2 separate regions of the Homo sapiens genome follow, and region 1 is linked to region 2. A link means that fine-mapping ties the variant in region 2 to the expression of a gene that starts in the linked region. Tissue or cell type: whole blood. Region 2 holds a variant in brackets; the other region holds the start of a gene. All regions are shown on one strand. Distances are from middle to middle.

What was found. PIP is the estimated chance that this variant, and not a neighbour inherited with it, causes the effect.
Region 1: PKP4 starts here. The variant in region 2 is fine-mapped to the expression of PKP4 in whole blood (TOPMed, PIP 0.96).

Annotation. Positions count from the first base shown.
Region 1 is chr2:158,455,502-158,458,188 of GRCh38, forward strand. It overlaps PKP4 (plakophilin 4), which reads left to right and starts at 1,451. Exons shown (of 22, transcript NM_003628.6): 1 at 1,451-1,717. It overlaps CCDC148 (coiled-coil domain containing 148), which reads right to left and starts at 1,252. Exons shown (of 14, transcript NM_138803.4): 1 at 914-1,252. The coding sequence starts at 938. LOC124907900 reads right to left here and starts at 2,633. Exons shown (of 1, transcript XM_047446754.1): 1 at 1,630-2,633. The coding sequence starts at 1,953. The coding sequence ends at 1,630. RefSeq lists silencers at 1,156-1,450, 1,181-1,550, 1,771-1,820, 2,071-2,120, 2,141-2,200 and 1 more.
Region 2 is chr2:158,612,442-158,615,128 of GRCh38, forward strand. The region is part of intron 4 of PKP4 (plakophilin 4); the gene reads left to right. Among named protein-coding and RNA genes, the nearest start is that of PKP4-AS1, 120 kb to the right of the region's middle. The variant C/G (reference allele first, on the strand shown) is at 1,532.

The DNA of each region.
Region 1 (2,687 bases), 160 kb before region 2:
ATTCAGAACAATACTTAGACATATGCAGCTTGCACACACATTAACCTGTTTCTCCCAACAAAATATTTGTAATTTCCAAAATCCTATCAGCTTTTTCACACAATATGGTCCCTCCAATTTGAGGGGTAGTAACATAGTCTCCTTACTAAAGAGATTAGTCTAAAAAAAGTAAAATCGCCAAAAGAATGTAAGAATATCAGTGGCTATAGGCTAGAGCAATATCATCTTTTAAAGCCTAATATGTTCATGAAATCTCACTTTAAGAAGGTGATATCTAAACATAAAATTTATTGACAAAAAACAATTAGTATTGATAAACCACCACAAAATGATTTTAAATGAAAGTAGAAGACATTATTAAAGCTCAAGATTTTTGCGTGTACTGATTTCATGCCTCAGGTTATTTCCATATCAAATTTAAAGAGATACTGGAAAATAGAAAACAAAATCCATCAACTGTAATCCATTTCCCTTACTCTTTTGTGAAATCATCACAAGGTGTGAAGGATTGTTTCTGTTTCCTCTATCTTTAACAAGCCTGTAACCTCTCAAGTGAAAGAACATGCACCTGTCAAGCTCATAGTGCGGGATGTACACACAGATGTGTTTAATAAATATCTGCCCACAGGGAGATTAGAGGTTTGCTTTGAGAATCAGGGAACAGGCTAGCTCATGTGTTGACGCTTTGGCATCTATCATACAATCCGCCACCTCGTTCCCTTACCAAAATATCCTCAAAGGAAATCCTCTTTGAGTCTTTCAGAAGAGTTATGAGTTTGAGGACCCAAAACGTTGAGGAAAGATCCACCCCAGGGAAGGGGGAGTGGCTGCAGAGAACAAACATAAGTAGGATTTAGGTGGCTCAGTGACGTCAGGAGGAAGCAGCGATGGAAGGGATGGGGTGCAAACTCACCTGGAGAAGCAGAAGCTGCACACATGTCAAAGGTCAAAGGGCATAGCCTCAGGGACTCCCCAAACGCAGGAAAAGTGAAACGCCCACTCCTGGGCTCTCGCCGTCAGGGGTACATCTAAGGGCTCAGCTGTTCCTACCTTTGACGCCAGGGACAAACCCTACCAGGCACAGTTGGGATTGGCAGTAAGGCAAGGAAAGCCTGCCCCAGATTTCAGAGCCAGCGCTGGGGAATCTCCCTGTCCTCTCCGCCACCCCCTCCCGCGCCCGAGACCTGAGACACCTTCTCTCTCACACCCACCCTCTCCAGGCCCTCTCGCGCTGAACAGCATCGGTCTCTATGGCGACCTGAAACCGCAGCTCCCATTGGCCTGTTCAATATGAGGGCCGGGCCAATGGGGAGGGCCAGCCCTCTCCTTCCCGCCAATGGGGTGGCGGGAGCTGGCCCGGGGACGGCGGCGTGCTGACGTTCCCGGGAGCCCGGGGCTGGCCGGGCGGGAGGGCTGGCAGCGGGGCGGGCGGCGGCGGCGGCCTCTGGGCAGTAGAGGGGGCTCCGGGGCTGAGTCCGCGTCGACGCCGGCCGCGGAGGCGGCACCATGGGCAAGGGGTAGAGGGGCAAGTTGGCCACCGCCGCCGCCGGGGGTGGTGGGAGAGCCGCTCCGGGGGCGGGGGCCGGTGGGGGAGGGAGGGGCGGGCAGCCGCGCCGCCGCGGCACTTTTTTAATTTTTTCGGGTGCCGCAGCGGCGACCCCTCGGCGCCGATGTCCCTGATCCCTGGAGCGACGACGGCCGCTGCCTAAGCTGGAAAGTAAGTGTGTGGGCTCGCGGGAGGGCGCGGAGACTCCTGCCCACGAGACCCTCGGCCCTCGCCCCGAACACGCGCCAGGGCCAGGACCTGCGCGCCGGGGGCCGGGGGCCTCCCTCCCGCTGCCGCGTCCCCAGCGCCTCGCGGCCGCCGCGGCTTTCCTGCCCCGCCTCGTGTTCCTGCCCGCACTCGCCTGCTGCTCCCCTCCCCCCGGCAGGCGCACAAGTTTCACCCTCCATTTGCTTTTCCCGGCGATTCCTCTCCCCGGTCTCCCGTACGCGCAGCGCACGACCTCTGCCCACGCTGGGCTGTTCGGATTCAGAGCTCCCAGCCCCGAACTTGAGCGCCGCGCTGAGCCCTGCTGGACGCCCTCGCGGCGGCTTCCCCGCTGCCTGCCGCCGCGCGCCCCAAGTCGCCCTCGACACCACTGGGCGCCCGCCCTCCTCAGCACTCGGGGCCGGCTGTCTGTCCTTCTAGCCCCAGATCCTGCACCTTGGTCCCCTCCCCGTCTTCCCACGCCCCTGCTGCCCGCGCGGTCTTGCGTTTGTCCCCGAAGTCCTGTACTCCTTGCCGGTCCTGCCCACCCCTCTGCCTAGTGCGCCCCTCTCTACCGGCCGCGGATCCTCACGCTCCACCCCTCCCGGCTCCCCAGCGCCGAGCCTCGCCGCTGCCCTCCTGCGCCGCCGCTTCCTCCTCTCCCTGCCAGGAGTTGAAGCGGAGCTGCGGCACCTCCCTGGCGGATCTGGTATCCCCGCCCGCTGCCGAGGCTGCCGGCCCTCTCCCCTGGACCGCTACCCGGAGAGCGAGCGGCGGGGCCGGGATTTGGCTGCGTGTTGGCTGAGTGCGACACACCGCGAGCGCGGGCAGTGGAGGTGCCGCGGCGGCCGTGGCCGCTCGGGGCGCAGCGGTAGTCAGGTGTGTGTGTACAGCGGGGGACGCGCGCTGCCGGCTCCTGGGCTGGCGACAGATTGTG
Region 2 (2,687 bases):
ACAATGAGAAGATTCTTTCTGCACATATATGAGTGTCTCTGATAGGATTTCTGTAACTGAAACTTCCTGGACAAGGGTGTATACATTTTAATTTTGACAAATATTGTCAGTTTGCCCACCAGAAAGCTTAACAATTTATGCTCCTACTGATAGCACCTGGTAGTCCTATCTACACTTACTATGTTACCAGAGTACAGGAATGTAAATCTTCATGATTATTTAAAATTTTAATAAGTTACTAGGCTTTAACAAAAACATTTGTTTCAAATTTCTCTATATCATAAAACAGGAACAGATTGAACAAAGTAAGATAATTTTTAAATATCATTATTAACTATTCATTAAATCATAACACTCCATGGAAACTTGAGCATACCCCGGACCATCATGCTAATTAACTCGTTCTCATGGAGATTGGAGATCAGCATGACCTTAGAATATAGTAAAAGTATCATACTGTTTCCTGTCAGTTTGGCTTTCTTCTGTCTTCATAGCTGGCTCAAAATGATCAGATACATTTTTCTATCATGAAAAATGCAACAACCACTACCAAATCAAGCAAAAAACAAACTTAAAAAATCACCACTGGATATAATTGTGGGTGCCAACATCTCACTCCAGAGGTTCCTACACACTGCTATACTTCAGAGTCACCTGCAGAGCTACTAAAATCTTGACGCCCAGGCATCACCCCCACACAATTTAGTTCGAAAGTCTGAGTTGGGAACCAGGCGTCAGTGGGGTTTAACGAGTCCCCAGGTGACTCCAGTGTGCACAGTTTGAGAACCACTGCTTTATTCTAAAACCTAGTCATTAAAGAGAAGAATTAAAAATTTATCCTGCCTGTCCTGTTCATATTTCAGGATAAGTAAATAATCCTAGCTATTATGTAAAATATTCCAAAAGAATTCCTGCTGATAAATGTAGAAAGAATAACAAAATTAGAAAAATCACTAGTTTGCAAGCCCTAATGAAATAATTCAAGCAAAGATTGTCAGTGGATGCTAAAACCTCTTAAGTTCCCAACCCTAGCTGCACAGTAGAATCACCCTGGGAGTTTTTTAAAGTTCCATTATTCAGAATACAGCTTAGACTGATTGAATTGGAATCTCTGAGTGTGGGACTTGGACAGCAATAGTGTTAAAATTCCACCCAATTTTCAACCCAGGTGATTGCATTGTACAACCAAGGCTGAGAACCATCGCATTAGGAGACAGATTGGTGGTAAACTTGACAGAGGATTAGGCTGCCACTACCTGCATTGCCTGATAGATCTTAGCAACCCTGAAAGTTGTAATGTGAAAGGTGTGATGTACATGGCACCATTCATAAAGTATGCTACCCACAAAGGCTTGACCTGAAAGCTTTTAGCTATAACCTTCTGCTTAAAGAAATAGTGTATTTAGAGGAATAAGTAAATGACATGAGAAAACCATCAGATAAATTCAGGATGTGGAACAACTTAAAAGTGTATTGCTGCAGTTTCCTCAGTTCATCAAAAACATGAAAATGAAGGAATGGGTGCCCCTTT[C/G]TAAATTGAGGGACTTAAATCAGTTGTACTCAAATGCAATCAGGAAACCTTATTTCAGCTTGACGAGTACAAGCCAACTGAAGAAACACATTTCCAAGACATCTGAAAAATTTGAATTTGAACACACTATATGGCATTATGGAATAATTATGGTTTTATGAAGTCCTTATTTTATAGAGATACAAATGGAAGTATTTAGAGTTGAAATGATCCGACGTGAGAGATTTGTTTTGAACTTCTACAACAAAGGAAAAAGATAATGGAAAAAAGTATGCATAAAGTAGAACTTTTATATATGTTTAAAACTTCAATTACAAAAAAATTAAATACAAATGCTTTAAACAAAAGTTTTGAAATATCAAGGCAAAAATGGTGTGCTGGAGTGACATGGTAAAGCCAGCAAAATTTTGACCATATTCTGAAGGTCAGCCCTGACATAAATGATATGAAGAAACCAACTATGAAATGGATGCATGAGTTTCCCAGCCAGTGGATATTACTTAATTTGTAGTTTCCACATATTTGGGATTTTATTAAATGAATTTTTATCGAACAAATTACCTATATTATACAGAAGATCAGCCTTTCAAGTTTAGAACGATAGATGTCTCAATATGTTTATCGTGGGCCACCACCAAATAAGAATATTAGATTTTGCCCTAGCAAACATAACATCTAAATATTCCAAAGCCACTTATGCATGATATATGAACAGATTCCCAAAAGCACATTATATGAAAATCAAGAATCCAGTTTTAGCCTTTAATATTTTATGTTTGATATAAACATGCCAAATATTTAAACTTTCTCATGCTTTTAGTGATATGTGAAGAAATGTGCTACTATCTAAAATAAAATAGAAATTGTCAAGTCTGAAAACCCTTCTTTTTCTATTACCACCTCCTCAAAACACAGAGCCTTCGATCCTCAATTTACAACTGTTGCTTTGGGAAACATCTGAAAGCCACCCTCTATAATTTCACATTTCATTCTTATGACAAAGTTAGTCTGCATGTGGCTTTATCTTAGTATATTTTACAAAAAAAAAAAATAACTAGTGGAAAAATATAGAAGATCTTATTTCAAAAGAATCGTTTCTTTCTTTTTGATAGTGAATATCATCCTTTATAGGTTTGTGTTTTTAAGAAGGTTTTTT